Linked DNA regions of Homo sapiens: regions 1 and 3 are each linked to region 2. Evidence: fine-mapped expression QTL. A gene starts in region 2. Each other region holds a variant in brackets. All regions are shown on one strand. Distances are between the middles of the regions.

Evidence for each region.
Region 1: its variant is fine-mapped to the expression of GALK1 in whole blood (TOPMed, PIP above 0.99).
Region 3: its variant is fine-mapped to the expression of GALK1 in whole blood (TOPMed, PIP 0.94).

What each region holds. Positions count from the first base shown.
Region 1 is chr17:75,841,706-75,847,576 of GRCh38, forward strand. It overlaps UNC13D (unc-13 homolog D), which reads right to left and starts at 2,699. Exons shown (of 32, transcript NM_199242.3): 1 at 2,516-2,699; 2 at 1,779-1,814; 3 at 1,454-1,561; 4 at 1,309-1,368; 5 at 1,152-1,218; 6 at 728-908. The coding sequence starts at 2,632. WBP2 (WW domain binding protein 2) reads right to left here. Exons shown (of 8, transcript NM_012478.4): 6 at 5,782-5,871; 7 at 5,203-5,279; 8 at 3,994-5,082. The coding sequence ends at 5,029. RefSeq lists silencers at 1,969-2,028, 2,879-2,938, 2,949-3,108 and enhancers at 2,216-2,920, 3,339-3,418, 3,549-3,638. The variant G/A (reference allele first, on the strand shown) is at 2,892.
Region 2 is chr17:75,763,060-75,768,930 of GRCh38, forward strand. GALK1 (galactokinase 1) reads right to left here and starts at 2,133. Exons shown (of 8, transcript NM_000154.2): 1 at 1,913-2,133; 2 at 838-1,027; 3 at 261-380; 4 at 1-90. The coding sequence starts at 2,077. RefSeq lists enhancers at 1,148-1,357, 1,388-1,617 and silencers at 1,728-1,877, 2,108-2,297.
Region 3 is chr17:75,921,481-75,927,351 of GRCh38, forward strand. It overlaps FBF1 (Fas binding factor 1), which reads right to left. Exons shown (of 30, transcript NM_001319193.2): 10 at 5,278-5,397; 11 at 4,808-4,946; 12 at 4,550-4,683; 13 at 3,867-3,966; 14 at 1,706-2,161; 15 at 465-566; 16 at 1-80. Among named protein-coding and RNA genes, the nearest start is that of FBF1, 17 kb to the right of the region's middle. RefSeq lists enhancers at 1-826, 4,223-5,422. The variant C/CA (reference allele first, on the strand shown) is at 2,577.

The DNA.
Region 1 (5,871 bases), 79 kb after region 2:
GTGCTGGGATTACAGGCATGAGTCCCTGCGCCTGGCCCCCACTAATTTTTTTTTTTTTTTTTGAGACAGAGTGTCGCTCTGTCACCAGGCTGGAGTGCAGTGGTGCTATCTCGGCTCACTGCAACCTCCGCCTCCCAGGTTCAAGCGATTCCCCTGCCTCAGCCTTCCGAGTAGCTGGGACTACAGGCGCCTGCCACCACGCCCGGCTAATTTTTTGTATTTTAGTAGAGACGGGGTTTCACCGTGTTAGCCAGGATGGTCTCAATCTCCTGACCTCATGATCTGCCCTCCTCAGCCTCCCAAAATGCTGGGATTATAGGCGTGAGCCACCACGCCCGGCCTTTTTTGTATTTTTAGTAGAGATGGGGTTTTGCCATGTTGGCCAGGCTGGTCTCAGTCTCCTGGCCTCCCAAAGTGCTGGGATTACAGGTGGGAACCACTGCACCCATCCCTGCCTCCTTTCAGGTACAGCTTCAGGCACCCCCAGACTCACCCACAAGGGCCTGACCCTCCTTGCCCCATCAGCACGTGTGGCATTGATCTTGTTCTGTCCCATCTGACCTACTGTCCACCTAACGTGCCTGGAGATGGGCTTCTCCTCTAGTCTTTGCCCAGGGCCAAACCCCCTCCCCTGAGCCAGGACGACCTACTCATCTCATTGTCTGGGGCAGACCCTGCTACCCAGGAAAGACCTGGATAGAGTGGGGGCTGGAGCACGGCCACGTACAGGATGAAGGTCTCGTCCCAGACGGGGTTGAGTGTCTGGGTGATGACCTGCGTGCGGTGGGTCTCCTCCTCGGGGATGGTGTGCCTCACCACAGCCTTCTGCCGATGCCGGGACCCGGGGCTGCCCCCTGGCACACCTACCCCCTGCTCAATGCCCAGCAGGCAGTAGGGGTCGCTGAACCCTGTGGAGGAGTGGGGAAGACGAGGCAGCCAGGGAGTCGGCTGGGTCCCTGGGAGAGGCCCTCATCACCCCCGCCCGGGGCTGAGCCTCCTCCGGGGGAGAGGGAAGGGGACCAGCAGCATGGGGGGCCAGCGCTACAGGGCTTCTTGGAAGTGGGTGCTCCCGCCAAGAGTCCTGGGCCAGGCTGTGATGGGAGAGGAAGGAGCCAGGAAGAAGCCCCTTGGGGACCCCACCCCATGCTCACCACTGACATCTTTGCCCAGAATGCCCTTGGCCTGTTTCACTGTTGCCTTCAGACAAAATATTGGCTTCTGGAGGGACAGGAGGGATGGCCTGAGTCCCTGAGGGGGCTGGGCTTCCCAGGCCCCTCCTTGCCCAGGGGGACCCTGGCCCCAGGTTACCTCAAGCTCCCTGACCCGCTGCAGTGTCTGCTGGTGCTCCTCGGGCTCCACGTGGAAGGCCTGGTGGGGAGGCAGGCGGGTGGGTGGCTGGGGGCACCAGACAGGGCAGCTGCAGGAAGGGGGGTGGGGTGGGAGCCGGGCTCACCTCCTGCAGGTATCGCAGCAGCTCAGAGGCCTCCGTCACATGGTTGGGCTCAGGATGACCCAGGCGGTGCAAGACAGTGTAGAGTGCGTCCTCGTAGAGCAGGGCCCGCTAAGACACACGGGGTCACCTTGGGGACCCCACCAGCCACCCCTGGCACCAACACCTCTCGCCATGGGCAGGACAAGGGCGGCTTGTGCAGCGGAGGGAGTTGAGACCCAGGAGTCCCCTCCCCACCGCAAGTTGCTTGCTGCCATCAGCGTCGGCCGGCAGGAGGACACACAGCCGCCCTCCCCACCTCTCTGCACCCCAGCACTCTGACTCTTACCTGCTCGGGGGAGAAGTGGTGGGATGGAGGCTGGATCTGCAGAGCAAGGTGGAAAGGCAGTGTCCCGGGAGGCCCAGAGCAGGCTCAGATGGACAGGAATGGCTCCTCTGAGGCCTGATCCAGGCCAAGGGTATGGGGGCCCCAGCACCCCGGCCTCCAGCCCCAGTGATGCCCCGCACCTGTTCCCCCAGCAGGCCTCCTGGAGGTCCGTCCCTGGGCCCGCCGTGGCTGAGGTCCATGGGTGCCCAGCAGCGCGAGCCCTCCGCACCCGCACCCCACCTCCCTCCCTTCCCCAGAGGAAACAGCTCTGCTTATCAGTGGCGGCTGCTCCTCACCCAGCAGCGGAAGTGAGGCTCGGCAGCGGAGGTGAGGGGGGTGCCACGTCGGCCTGGGGGTCTGCTGCTCCCCGAACAGCTCACCCCACAGCAGGGACACCCCCACCTAATGGAGTCGGCTCTTCTGAAGCTGGAGGAGTAGGGGATGGGGTCAGGCCAACCGGGAGGGAGGGGTTCTGAGAGCCTCAGACCACAGGGCCTGAGGCCCACAGTGGCCCAGAGTCCATCTGGCAGCCCCTGCTCTGCTGGCCCAGGGGGCTCTCCCCAGGGTGGAGTAGGCAGGGGAGGGTCGCTGGTCCCCAGTCCCAGCCTTCGAGAGGTGGGGCCAGACAGCAGGGCACCCGTACCCGAGACCACAGTGCTCCCCAAGGCCAGCTCTCTCCCCAGTGAGGTCACTCCTACCTCCGGGGCCATTTGGGGCGGGGGATCCTGTAGATCTCTGACTCTGCGGCGCCTTATCTTGATGGCCTGGCGCAAGAAGGGAGGGCGCTGCTGCGGATGGGAGAGGAGTGTCGCCATGGTGGCCTTCTCTGCCCTTCCCTGTCCGCTGGTGCTGGGTGAAGACAGCGAAGCCACAGGATTATGCAAAGAGCCTGGGGCTGCCACCCTCTGTCAGGGGAAGTTTTAGGGAGGGTGGCTGGGAGGGACGGAAGGGTGAGGGTTTCACCGCTTCGGAGAGGCAGTCTCCCAGGCCCCCTGCACCTTCCCCAGCTGGGATCCCTACAGGACCCTCCTCTGGCTGGAGCAGAAGGTGGACCCCGTGGGCAGGCCTGGCCCC[G/A]CCCCACCCTCCTACAGAGGCCCTGGGAAGGGGACAACGCTCTCAGCAGGGGGCGGGGGGGCCCAGAACAGGCGGGCAGCATCCTGCCCCATCCATGTGCTGTGCCCAGGCTGGGCTGAACCCTGAGAGAAGCTGACCTGGGCCCGGGGGGGTTCTCACCCCACTTCCTCGAGTGCGTCCAGACGTGGGGCGGGGCGGGGTGGGGTGGGGTGTGGTGGCGCCCAGGGTGGGGGCTCCCAAGAGGCGTCTCCCTGGAGGACAGCCAGTTGCTCAGCCTGCCTGGCCCCACAGGTGACATTCCTTGGAGATGACGGGGCCAAGCTGTGCTGGGCAGGGACAGCCCTGTGCCCCTGCCCCCACCTTGGCAGTCAGGACAGTGCTCCCTTCAGACACCCTTGAAGGGGGCTTAGCCAAGTCCCAGAGAGCTCTGGGCCAGGCTGGCCAGGAGGAGGAGGCAGAGGGGCTGCTGCCCGATCTCTCCTGAGGACAGACTTGGCTCCCGGGGGACAGGAAAATGCGCCTCAGCATGGGGCTTTCCTAGAGCTCTGTGGCCTGCCCACCCTGTGCCCAGTGCTGGGCTGGGGGACTTGCGGGCGTGTGGGCCTGGTCACGGCCTTTGGCCATTTCCCACCCTCCTGTCCCTTCAAGTTCACAGCAGGGCACGTGACGTGGGTGGTGGCAAGCCGGCTTGGCTACCTCAGTGTCCCTGTCACAGGTCCTGACGTGCTCCAGGGCTGACTCGGCCTCCTCCCTCCAGCAACCAGGACTTAGGCCAGGGCTGCCATTCCTCGAGGAGCCAGCAGGGGACAAGGTGGCAGCCCCAACTCCTCCCTTCAAGGCCAACTCTGGGCCACATCCACCTCTGTCCCAGCCAGGCCCTGGGGACTCAGTGGGGGAGGGACACAGCTGCTGAGCGACAACCGTTAAGAACCAGCTCCAGAGGCCAGAGCTGTCTTGGGGACCAGACAGGCTGGCTGGGCCGTGAGAATGGGGATCCTCCCATGGGAGGGAACCGTCCCAGAAGTCTCCAGGGCCCTCAGCGGCCAGACGGCTCTCCTTCCGGAAGAGACCCCCGGGTCACCACACGCAGAGCCAGAAAGGGTCCAGTTATTTCATTTTTACTATTTCACATTTTCAGCAAACAAATCGAGGTGCAAACAGGGTTTATTTCACATTAATATATTAACTGGATTTTTTGTCAAATAAATAGGGAATTCTCTTTAAATAACCATCTCCTCACTTCATGGCCAGTCCAGGGACAAACAAGAGTGAATGTTAGCGCATCCAGGGGCACAAAGCTTAAGGGGAAGAAGCAGGCTGGGGGGCTGGTGGCAGGTCCCGGCCAGCACACAGGGTCAGGGGCCCTTGTTCCCGGCCCCACCCAGCAGCCACCAAGTGGACAGACATGCATTCTCTGGTTCCAGTCAGGAAGCTCCTTCTAGAAGGAAGTGAGAGGTGAGGGAAAGCAAATTCCAGAAACACCAGCAAAAGGCAGAAGGGCTTCCTCCCAGCCTCGGCGGCCCTGCCCCGACGCCACCCAAGCCCTGGAAGCTCATTTTACAGCTTCAAAAGTCACACAGGGTGGCAACAACATGACCCAGGACAGGGAAGGGAAGGAAGGGTGGCGGGGGCTGCAGCTGGACCCTGGCTGAGTGGAATGCGGGCGCGGTGGCCTTCTGAGACCAGCACAGACCAGCAGAGGGAATGTGAGCAGGGTCTGGCAGGGCCCGGGAAGACACCTGGCTGGTCTGAAGTGGCTCATGAGGCTGAGTGTAGCAGTGGGTGCCAGACTGAGGGAGCTGGACTGCGGTGGAGGAGGTGGCCAGAGAGTCCCTTCGAGGGGAGAAGCTGAGAGTGAAACAGGAACAGGGGATGCTCCGTGCTCCCAGAAGAGCCCCAGACGGTGAGGGAGGTACGCTGGGCAGCACTGTGGGCTCCGGGCTGGCATGGGAAGCTGGGCGGCACCTCTCCCGAGGCCGGGGGCCCTAATGTCCCACAATGCTAGTTCCTGGTAATTGTTTATGATCAGACCTGGAGGGAGAACAAGGCGCCCCCTCCCCTCCCCAAGCCCCAGCACAGCCCCGATGGGAGGGGTAGGGTAGAGAGATGAGGGTGGGAGGCAGGGAGGCAGGAGGGCCTACTGGGTCTTCTTATCTTCCGGTGGGTAGTAGGGAGGTGGCGGCGGCTGGCTCTAAAGAAGGGAGAAAGGAGAGACTTGCATTAGAAGGTTTAAAACATGGTGCGGTCATCCCCCTGCGGCTCCCAGCATCTGCGGCTGTGGGGCTGCACCGGCACTGCCAAGCCCTCTCACCGTGGGCATGTAGACGTTGTGAGGATTGCCTGGGTTGTAATAGGCGCTGGCGGCTGCTTCTGCGGCCTTGGCTTCGGCTGTGAGAGCAAACACACCTGGTGTCGGTGACAAGTTCTCCTCCCCCTGAGCTCAGCTAAGAGACCCCGGGCCCCCATGGCTCGGGGCAGCTGGTGCTGGGGGTCCAGTTCCACCAATGAGAGCAGCAGGTGAGGTTTCCTGAGCACATGCCACGCGCTGGCACGGTCCTTTCCAGGCCCATCGCATGTCTCACCTCATCTAATCCTTGAGCCAATGCCCCAGGTGCCACTGTGACCGACCAGCTGAGTGTAGATGAGAGGATCGAGAGGCACACAGGGTGACCTTCCCCGCCCAGGGCACATGGATAGCTAAGGGATGGGGGTGGGGCCAGAATCTAGCTCCGCTCCACCAGGCCACAGCCCTGCTGGGCCCCTGGGGTAGTCCAGGGGTCATCCATCATCTGCGGCTCTCAGCAGTCTCTGGCCATTCTGAGGCTCTCTGTGCGACATCGGGGAGGAGAGGGCTGGTCCCGAAGGGCTGCCAGCACCCAAGGGCCCTCACCTGCAGGAGTGGAGGGGACATCGGGGCCGCTGACCGGAGGTTCCATGGGCCCAGGGTAGGGCGGTGGTGGGGGCTGCACGTATCCCATGG
Region 2 (5,871 bases):
TGAACTGGTCCATGATGCCACAGGGCATCCCTGCGAAGCTGTGCTCGGCCTGCTGACACACCTGGGCGCGGGCAGCTATTGTGCCCGAGTCTGCAGTACAGGGTGAGGTGGGGAGGCTAGGGCTGGTGGAAGCAGCAGTGGCTTCAATGACACTCCAGGGAGAGTCCCTGCCACCCCCTCCATAAGGCATAGTAGAAGCTGGGACCACCTGGAGACCTCAGGGAAGGAGGGCTGGGTCAGGGCTGGGGCCTAGCTGGTACCTGGACAGAGCTGCTGGAGGAAGGTGTACGTGGCCACTTCCAAGGATGCTGAGCTGGACAGGCCACCCCCCAGGGGCACTGAGCTGACCACCACTGCACTGAAGCCAGGGAGGGGGGCAGCTGCAGGGGAAAGAACAGGTGATGGTAAGAGGGGCTGCCTGGGAGGATGGCACAGGAAGGGCAGGTGTCCTGGCGGGAAGGGCAGCAACGGCCTAGCAGCTGTTTCTAGGGTGTGTGTCTCAATTGTCAGAAGCCACCAACCTGCTGGGCCAAGGGACCCACTGCCCTCCATTTTCCCACCCTCTGAGGTTGCTGGGACACTTCTAATTGTCCTCCTGGTTTAGGGCTCTGGAGGGAAAAAAGGCTGGGGTTCAAATCCTGGCTCCTCCAATCAGGTCACGGGAAACCCAGGGCAAGTTCCCGACCTTCTGGGGGCATCAGTTTCCTCATCTGTACAATGGGATGCTCCACTCTACAAGCCTTCCCCACAGTGTATCAGACAAATGAATGGGCTCTGTGGCTGTGAGGTGGCACTCCTAGTATCAGTGAGGACTTGGCTCAGGCCTGGGCCCCATACCTGGGTAGTACTGAATCACTCCCTTGACATAGTTGGCCCACCGAGGAGTCCCAGGCTCCAGCGAGCGCTGGGCTGTGGGCAGTGGAAACTGCAGCCGCTGGGGCTCATCGGCACCCTCAGAGGTGGTGAGGAGAGACACCAGCCCATCCTTGCGGGGGCTGCCCACCAGCACCGTCATGAGCTCCAGAGCCTGGCAGGAGAGACAAGCAGTACGTGAGGCTTCCGCCAGCTGGAGTAAGCCTCTCCAATGACACTGCCTCCAGCCGAGGTTCTGATGCCTCCACAGTCATCAGGTTCTGAACCTCCAGGTTCAGCGTCGCAGGGAAGATCCTGAGGGCCAGCTGACCTTGGGGGCTTGAGCCCTGCCCCCTTAGGTCTTCAGGGGCGGGGCGGCTGCAGCTGGAGCACAGACCTGGACTCTGCCCTGAGCTGTGGGGCAAGGGGGAGAGCTAGCCCAAAGGGAAAACAGATCACTGGAGCTCCAAAGCCTTTACATTTTGGGGTGGCTCTGGACATCCTGTACCTGTGCACTCCCCAAGCTGCAGATGGGGCGGAAAGCGCCCCCCGCTGAAAGCTGGGAGTCCTCACTCCCAAGTCGCAGCCCCGCCAAGAACCTGCTGTGTGACCTCCAGCAGTTCACTGGGCCTCTCTAGGCCTCAGTTTCCTCCTCTGTAAATTGAACGGGCTGGGCCAGAAGGCTACGTTCGCCCAGGTCTGCGGTTGGGGCCCCACGGTGGCCGGAGGCGCGGAGTGTCCCCTTCTGCGTGGCACACAGGGCCTCACAGTTTAAGGGGAACATGCTCCCAGGTTGAAGGCGAGGAGCCCCAGCCCCCAGAGGGCGGGCTTGAGCCAAGAGGCGGCCGCGCACCCTCTCCCGGCCACTTCCTCGCTTCCTCCCTTCCAACGTGGGGAACAGCCTGTCCCGGGGACTCTTCCGTGCACCGGTGCTCCAGGCGCAGCTGCCCGCCCCACATCTCCCGCGGGAAGAACTCGCCCCCAGCGTCCCCGAGGCCCGCCCTCCTCGGCGGCCGGGACAGGCGGCGGCGGGCTAGGGGCTCCCCGTGCAGCCCCTCACCATAGGCAGCACCAGGCCCTGGTTGTAGTCCGTGTGTTCCCCGATGAGGTTGACGCGGCCCGGCGCTGACACGGCCAGCTCGGGCTCGGCCCCGAACTCCTCCCGGAAGGCTCGCCGGGCCTCGGCCAGCAGCTCCGCGACCTGGGGCTGTCTCAAAGCAGCCATGACGCGCGCCTGCAGCTCTGCACAGCTGCTCCGGCACAGCCCCGTCGGCGCGGGATGCTCGGGCGGGGCCCCGCGCGGGGGTGCGCACATTCCCGCCAGCCCCGCCCCGCGCCCGGACGCCCCGCCCCCAGACCTCAGCCGGTTCCGCCCCCACCCGCAACTCCCGTGGGAATCCAGCTGCTGGGTGGTGGGTGGCAGGGGCTAATGGTGCCGGGTGGGATACAGCGCCCCCGATGGTGTCCTTCCCTCTGGACTTCGGGAAGAACCAATGAGCACTCACTAGAGTGAGAATAGCCCTGAGTGGCACTTGGCATGACCAGGATTTCTGAGCTGCCCTTCCCTGGCGCTGGTGACTTTCTATGTGCCTCACCACCCACCACCACCCACACAGCCAGAGCAATGGAGCTGGCACCCGGTTGACCTGGGATTCCCAAAGGGATCCCCTAGGTCCCCAGGGCCAGCAGCTGTGAGAGGTCATCAGCCTCTGATCACCGGTCTCCAAGAGGGTGACCTGACACTCACTGTAAGTAGAGATAAAGACAGACAAGTTTGGGCCGGGCGCAGTGGCTCACGCCTGTAATCCCAGCACTTTGGGAGGCCGAGGTGTGCAGATCACCTGAGGTCGGGAGTTGGAGACCAGCCTGACCAACATGGAGAAACCCCATCTCTACTAAAAAATACAAAATTAGCTGGGCATGGTGGCTCATGCCTGTAATCCCAGCTACTCGGGAGGCTGAGGCAGGAGAATCACTTGAACCTGGGAGGCGGAGGTTTCGGTGAGCTGAGATCACACCATTGCACTCCAGCCTGGGCAACAAGAGCAAAACTCTGTCTCAAAAAAAAAAAAGACAAGTTTGGTGGTGACCAGAGAGTCAATTTTACAAGCTCCTTTTCTAGGTAATACGCAACAGCTCCTAGCAATGGAGAATTGGACTAGGGTGGCGGTGGCCAGCAGTGGGCCCAGCCCCTCCCTTAAGGACCTGCCACAGCTGTCCAGGTAGGTTGTGCTGTTGGCCCCAGCAGGCACTACTTCAGCCCAGAAGCCCTTGTCTCAGAGGCGTGGCCTTGTTCCCAGTCAGGCACTCTTCTCTTGCTATCCTGCATCCTAAACCTGCTGGCCGGCCCCAACTGCTGCCTTGATACCTGTCCACAGCTGCCCACCCTACATGGAACCTTGAAACTGAAAGACTGAAATGTAAGCAGCTTGCTTGGGGTTAGGGTGGGAGTAGTGTGGGGAGTTATGGCCAGGGATTTAGCTTGGGGCCTGCTCAGGGGTGTGCCCAAAGAGTGGGGAACTGCATTCCAAGGGCAATTCTGAAAACTCTTAGAAGAAAACATAGGGGTACAGTTTTGTGACATTGGTTAGGAAATGTTTATTTGGTTTCTGTTTTTGAGACGGAGTTTCGCTCTCGTTGTCCAAGCTGGAGTGCAATGGCGTGATCTCAGCTTACTGCAACCTCTGCCTCCCGGGTTCAAGCGATTCTCCTGCCTCAGCCTCCGGAGTAGCTGGGATTACAGGCACGTGCCACCATGCCCGGCTAATTTTTTGTATTTTTAGTGGAGACTGGGGTTTCACCAGGTTAGCCAGGCTGGTCTCAAACTCCTGACCTCAGGTGATCCACCCACCTTGGCCTCCCAAAGTGCTGGGATTACAGGCGTTAGCCACCACACCTAGTCATGTTTTTTTATTTTTATTTATTTACGTATTTATTTATTTTAGACAGATCTTGCTCTGTTACCCAGGCTGGAGTGCAGTGGCGCGATCTTGGCTCACTGCAACCTCCGCCTCCCAGGTTCAAGCGATTCTCCTGCCTCAGCCTCCCCAGTAACTGGGATTACAGGCACCCTCCACCATGCCTGGATAATTTTTGTAAAAGCAGGGTTTCACCATGTTGGCCAGGCTGCTCTTGAACTCCTGACCTCAAGTGATTTGCCTGCCTCAGCCTCCCAAAGTGCTGGGATACAGGTGTGAGCCAATGCGGCCAGGCAATGGTTTTTTAGATATGACATCAAAAGCACAAGTGACAACAGAAAAATAAACTGTACTTCATCAAAGTGAAATATTTTTCTGCAACAAAGAACTGTCACGCGTGTCCGTGTGAACAGACCACCAAACAGGCTTTGTGTGAGCAACAAGGCTGTTTATTTCACCTGGGTGCAGGCGGGCTGAGTCTGAAAAGAGTAAGCAAAGGGTGGTGGGATTATCATTAGTTCTTATAGGTTTTGGGATAGGTGGTGGAGTTAGGAGCAATGTTTTGCGGGCAGGGATGGATCTCACAAAGTACATTCTCAAGGGTGGGGAGAATTACAAAGAACCTTCTTAAGGGTGGGGGAGATTACAAAGTACATTGATCAGTTAGGTTGGGGCAGGAACAAATCACAGTGGTGGAATGTCATCAGTTAAGGCTATTTTCACTTCTTTTGTGGATATTCAGTTGCTTCAGGCCATCTGGATGTATACGTGCAGGTCACGGGGGCTATGATGGCTTAGCTTGGGCTCAGAGGCCTGACAAGAACATTGTCAAGAAAGTGAAAAGACAACTCACAGAATGGAAGAAAGTACTTGCAAATCATGTATATCTCAGGGGCTTGGAGTTTGAGACCAACTTGGGCAACGTGGGAAGACCTCACTGCTACAAAAAAAAAAAAAAAAATTAGCCAGGTTGGGTGGCACACACCTGTGGTCCCAGCTACTCAGAAGGTGAGAGACCCTGTGTCAAAGAAGAAAAAAAAAAAGCAAAAGATTTCAAGAGACATTTTTCCAAATAATATAAATACAAATGGCCAATAAGCACATGAAAAGATGCTCAAATGTCAGATGTGGTGGTTCATGCCTGTGATCCCAGACTTTGGGAGACCGAGGTAGGCGGATCACTTGAGAGCAGGAGTTCAAGACCAGACCAGCCTGGCCAACATGGTGAAACCCCATCTCTACTGAAAACACAAAAATTAGCCAGGCATGGTGGCGCACATGTGTAATGCCAGCTTACTCGGGAGGCTGAGACACAAGAATCACTTGAACCCGGGGGGTGGAGTTTGCAGTGAACCGAGATCTCGTCACTGCACTCCAGCCTAGGTGACATAGTGAGACTTGGTCTCGGGAAAAAAAAACAAGTGATGTATCTATACAATAGAAATATTAATCCATAAAAAGAAATGAAGTACTGATACGTGTAACAACATGGATGGAGCCTTCAAGAAAAAAATTAGCTGGGCGTGGTGGCGGGCACCTGTAGTCCCAGCTACTCGGGAGGCTGAGGCAGGAGAATGGCGTGAACCTGGGAGGCGGAGCTTGCAGTGAGCAGAGATCGTGCCACTGCACTCCAGCCCAGGTGACAGCGCAAAACTCCGTCTCAAAAAAAAAAAAAAAAGAATGAACTTTGAAAATATTATGGTGAGTGAAGGAAGCCAGTCACACAAGACCACCTGTTGTATATCCAGAATCGGCAAATCTCTACAGATGGAAAGTTAATTAGCGGTTGCTTAGGCCTGAGGGAATAGCAGGGTCAGAGCCAAAGGATGGCAGGTTTCTCTGTGGTAAGGAAAATGTTCTAAAATGGACTGTGGTGATGGTTGCACATGCCTGTGAATATCCTAAACTGTTGAATTTTATGTTTTAAATGGGTGAATTATATGGTATGTATTATATCTCAATAAAGCTGTTAAGAAAAGAATGGGGCCCAGGTGTGGTGGCTCACGCCTGTAATCCCAACACTGGGAGGCTGAGGTGGGCAAATCGCTTGAGACCAGGAGTTCAAGACCAGCCTGGGCAACAAAGGGAGACCTCATCTCTC
Region 3 (5,871 bases), 160 kb after region 2:
AGAGGTCTCCAGGGGCTGTTCCCCTCTTTGGGGAACCTGTAGGGAGTGCTGAGGCGGCATGGTTCTGAGTCACAGGGGACCTGAGGACACAGGGATGGGGCATGGTGAGCAGCCTCTGTGTGGGACACGGGGACGGGGCAGGGTGGGCAGCCTCTAGGTGGGACATGGGGACGGGGCAGGGTGGGCAGCCTCTACGTGGGACACGGGGATGGGGCAGGGTGGGCAGCCTCTGCTGGGACACGGGGACGGGGCAGGGTGGGCAGCCTCTAGGTGGGACACGGGGATGGGGCAGGGTGGGCAGCCTCTGTGTAGGGCACAGGGACGGAGCAGGGTGGGCAGCCTCTGTGTGGGACACGGGGACGGGGCAGGGGCAGGGTGAACAGCCTCTGTGTCCCTCTCTCAGGACAGAGGCCTGTGCTGCCCACCATGCTCTCATTCCCACTCAGCCCGCAGCCCAGGCCTACCCCGAGACACCAGGCCTGACACACGGTCTTTCTCGTGCAGTTGTTCCAGAACTCCCTCCAGCAGCTGCGTGCTCAAGCCCTTGTGTGCTGGTGAGAGGTTGGCTGAGGAAAGGCAGCGTTCAAGGTGAAGGTGACAGAAGGCCCAGGTCAGGCTGGATGAAGACAGGGCCCAGGACGGGCTTCACACGTGAAGCTCGTGGCCCCCCTTCCTCCTGCTTCCACCATCCCGTCTTGGGGCATTCTCCTCCCACGTCTGAGCTCCTGGGATTTCTGGGCATCTCTTCCCTTCCAGTACCCCCTTCCTGCCTCAATGTCCACAGTGGTGCAGTGAATGGACACTGTCCAAGCAGTGACAACGGAAATGTTATAGACACTGGAGTCAAGTTCAAGTTCAGAGCCCTGTTCCAGTCCACTTAACTTGGCTCAGCTCTAGATTAGGATTCTGCTCAGTCTACCAAATCTGGCTGGCTCCCTTTCCCATTATTTCCACCTCTTTCTCGGCTCACGGGTCAGTGAAGAGACAGGCTCTTTTCTGTTTTGGCCTGAGCTTTCCCCTCGGCCTCAGGTCAAAGTCAAAACTGCCCTCCTGTCATCAACCCCAGGACAGGGTGATGTCCCTGGGCTGTCACAAATTGCCCAGTTCACTCCCCTGGGCTCTGGCCACAGCACATCTCACCACTTCCTCTGGACTCCCCCAGCCTGCTGGCCCCTTGTGCCTTCCTGCCTTCAGAGGTCACTCGCTATCCTGCCCCACGGATAAGGGCTTCTCCAAGAGGCGCCTCTCGGCCACTATGTCTCCTCTAACACTCTCAAAGAGCACAGGGACATCTCAGCTCACACACGCCATACTCGCTTCAGTGGAGTCGGCAGAAGCACCGGCTGTTTGGATGCCGGGGCTTCCAGCCTGAGGGCGCTGTGACAGGGCAGCGGTGTGTCTGCCACCTCAGGGACCCTCTGTCTTCTCCTCGATCAAGTTAGCACCTGTCCCCATGGCGGTCAGGGCATGAATGTCAACAGCCCTCCTTCTTGGGTATGTCCCTGGGGCAAGCCTGGGAGCCAGAGGCTCTCTCTGCAGTGCCTAAAAGGCAGAGTAGCAAAGCCAAGAAGCGGCCTCTGTGGCCACGGCGCCCTGCCTTGTTCCCCAACTGCTGACTGAGGCTGCAACAGGTGAAGGGGCAAAGGGGCTCCTCAAGTCCCCAGCCAGTCCTCCCCCTACTAGCCACAGCAGCCTAAGTCAGTACCTGCCAGAAGGGGGATGGCCCGCTGTCCCCGCCAAATGCAGGCCCTCAGAGGTCCCAGCATGCTGCTCTCTGGCCAGGCCTTGGGACTTCTTCCGAGACAGGGCATGGCTCAGCCAGTCCTCTTTCTCCTCCTTGGAGGCTCGCAGCTTGGAAGCCTGGCTGGCTTTGGCAGGGGACCCTGCACCTTCAGTTGGTGGCTTTGCCCTGGAGGGGGGCAGCCCAGCTGGCGTGGAGTGCTGGCTCGCAGGAGGAGGCACTGAGGGCGTGACAGGCACTGAACTTTCCCGATGGGCCTCTCTGGTGGGTGAGGCAGGGAACAGGTCCAAGTCCTCGTCCTTGAGGCCCAACCAGTCAGCTCCTCCCTTCCTGGGCTGGATGGGGCTGGAAGCCATTGGAGGGCTCTGTTTGGAGCCTGGTTCTCCCTTGGGGTCTGCGCCACTGTCTGCGAAGAACCTACTTCAAGACAGAAAGGAGGGTGTCAGGCAGGGGAAACAGCCAGTCCCAGTGGCCCCCTAGCAGCCTGCAGCTGGGCGTCACGATGCCCAGGGACCCTGCACAGTCAGCTGAGGCCCAGTGAGCAGTGGCTCCTGGACCGGCTCAGGTGGCAGGCCACGTGCTGTCTGTAGAACACCACGAAGTACAGAGACCTTGACTTCCATCACATGAACCAGGGACAGTTCTACCCACAGAGAACAGGAACAGGATCAAATGACAGCCATGGGCACACAGGTCTAAAGAAAAATCAGGCCGAGCACGGTGGCTCATGTCTGTAATCCCAGATCTTTGGGAGGCCAGGGTGGGCAGATCGCTTAAGGCCAGGAGTTCAAGACCAGCCTGGCCAACATGTGAAACCCCATCTCTACTAAAAACA[C/CA]AAAAAAATTAGTCAGGTGTGGTGGTGGGCGCCTGTAATCCCAGCTACTTGGGAGGCTGAGGCATGAGAATTGCTTGAACCCGGGAGGCAGAGGTTGTGGTAAGCCGAGATCATGCCACTGCACTCCAGCCTGGGCGACAGAGTGAGACTCTGTCTAAAAAAAATAATAATAAGTTGGATCAAGTGGTTTCCAGGTTTTCCAACAACAGTTACTTCATTTGTTCGGCCGTGGCCTTCATCTGTCACTGACCAGTGGCAGCAGGTTCCCAGGGTTAAGAACGTACTGGGTATGGGAAGTAATGCCGATGTGCTTAGAGCTATTCAGATAGAAAGAGGATGAAGAAGCCAACCTGGCAAATGGGAACAACTGCTGAACCTGGGAAAGGATGAGAGGGGCTCCTGGTGCTGTTCTTACAACTTCTGAAGTTTTTTTTTGAGACGGAGTCTCGCTCTATTGCCCAGGCTGGAGTGCAGTGAGTGGTGCAATCTCAGCTCACCACAACTTCCGCCTCTAGGATTCAAGCTATTCTCCTGCCTCAGCCTCCCGAGTAGCTGGAATCACAGGCGCCCACCACCACGCCCAGCTAATTTTTGTATTTTCAGCAGAGACGGGGTTTCACCATGTTGGCCAGGCTGGTCTTGAACTCCTGACCTCAGGTGATCCACCTGCCTTGGTCTCCCAAACTGCTGAGATTACAGGCATGAGCCACCATACCCAGCCGACTTTTGAAGTTTGAAATTACTTCAAAATACAAAGTTTAAAATATATACTGGCAAAAGAACTCCAAACTCAGAAAATCCTATCACTGATTTAATTTTTTTTTTTGTAAACTGAGAGGATCACGCTGTCAGAATTGTCACGGCAGGTTCGACAGCAGAGTTCCTGGGAAGCGGGGTCTAAGAAGCCACCGCAGATGCCAGTGGTCTTGCTACCCATCAGGAAGTATGTTCCTTGGGGAGACCGAGCGACATCACAGCCTTTTATGATTTCAGGGGCTTTAGGTGGAGGCAGGCCCACCTGCCCCTTTCCTTCTGAGGCTGGGTGGGGCACTGGCGAACCTGAGCAGCGTCTGGGATGGGGGTTCCCACTGGGGCCATCTCCTCCACTCTGTCTGGGCTGGCGGGACCAGGCCATCTCCCGCTTCCTTCAGCACCTGCAGAGCTGAGGGCCTTGTACCCTGTGGCCTCCCACATGAGACTCTCGGGTGGGACAGGGGACAGCTGCAGGGGCCTGTCTTCCCAGTGGCCGACCTGTCTCAAGAGGCCAAGCCTCCTGCAGGCCCCACTTACCTGACAGACTGCCGGCGGGACTGCCGGCCCTCAGAGGAGACCACAGTGGGCTGATAGGCTCCAAAGGTGAAGTCCTCGTCACCCCACATATCTTCACTGTCTGTGAATTAAGGAGCCTGTGACCGTGATCTGGAGTAGGGGAACCAAGCTCATTTGCGGCTGCAAAATTCTAACAAAAGCTGAATTTGGTAGCTTGTTGTGTAAGACAAGCAGAGGGAAGCTGCTGTGAAGGGAGCACCTCAGGCACTGGCCAGGAAGATGCAGTGGCCTTGCAGTAGCCAGACCCTGCCCCAGGATCCCTCGAGGTCAGGTCCAGCGAGCGGCATGTGTCACAAGAATGATTCTCAGCAGACAGCTTGTGGGCTGATGCTTTGAGAAACATGTCCAGAGCAGTGCTTTTCAAATGCGAGCTGCTACCCATGAGAGGGCTGAGAAACCAGCTTAATGTGTCACAGCCAGTGTGTTTCCAAATCAAACAGCATCTCAATCATAGACAACTGAGCACGAACAGTGGTCACGGTAAGTATTATTTCACGGTAAGTATTATTTTGTCTCAGCTATAGACGTGTATAATCACATGTGTGTATCAGGATGTGAGGCTGATTTCTCATTATAGGTTGTGATGAAAGCCTGATCTAGAGGCCTCCCTCCCGTCCTGTTGCGGCCCCCGCAAGCCTCCTTACCCTGTGGCCTCTGGTACTTCTTGTCTAGCTTGAACTCCCTGTGCTCCCCGGTGCCCGGGCGGGCCAGGAGTTTGGTGGCCATGCCTCGACCCAGCAGCTCATCCAGCGTGGAGCGAGCAGGGCGAGGCCCTTCCCTGCAGGACGGGACACACGGCAGGAACGTGTAGGTATGAGGGGCTCTCGGGAATCCCACAGTACCCGTCCACCAGCTTTTCCCTGAACCTGAGGCAGCAGCCTGGCCTACTCAGGGATCCTTACTGGTCTCCTATCTGCCTCTTCTCTGCTTTGGGGCTGTCTCCAAACCCCAAGGTGGCCATGATGTCATCCCCATCATCAAACAACAATTCTTCTTTTTTTCGGATGGGGGTGTCCCCAGGAGTTAGAGGAATAGAGGGACCTGAAAGACAAAACAAGGCCCAATGCCTGCAGCCTTCTTGCCCTCAACTGTGATATCTGAATGGGGTTGGGGGTGGTTTCTCTGCACCTTTGGGTAGGACGACAGGCTTTAGACCTGCCTGGTCTGTCCACGGGACCCAATTCCTCCAGCCTACTCCCAGACTCACACGTCCTACCTTCCTATTCCTAAAGGCTGATGATCTCTTTGTACTGGACCTTAGACCTCTGGTCCCCACCTGGGAGAGGCCTCTGGTTCTGCACCAGAAAGGCTGGTTAGCTTGTTGCCAATAAACTCTTCCTCCAGGATGGGAAATGAGCCCACTCCACCCTACCTTGATCTCTCACTGTGCTGGGGCTCTTGTCAGAAGCTGTTTTACTCTGTGTCACAGGCGGCTGCTTGGTGATTCCTCCTTCATCATAGGAGAGAAGTCCTCTCAATGGGTCTTCCAAGTCTCACAGCAGAAGGGAAAGCACAGGTCAGACTGCAGCACTTAGTTGAGGAAAAGCAAGCCTGAACTGGGGAGCAGCGCTCGAGTCAAGGCTTCTAGCTGCTCCAGTACATAAACAAGCCCCCTGGCATCTGGAGGGTGGGGCCTGGGGCAACGGGGACTCCACAAAAAGACAGGCCGGGCAAGGAGAGAGGGAGTTGGAGGGCGGCCCTGGACCTACGGGGCCTGCCTCAGGCTTGCCGGTGGGGCCTCTGACTCTGCAGGCTGCATGGCCTTCTGGAAATGTCCCTCAAGCATCAGAAGAGAAGTAAAATATCCACACATTCATGACGGGAAAGGGGCTCCTTCCTATACTTGGGAAGATCTTCAGTTTGATGCCTGGCTTTAAGGTCTTTGCAAATAAGTTCCCTAATATCTCAGCCAATACAATATAGCTGGTCCCGACATGAATTCACGAGGAAGTAAACCAGTGGCACC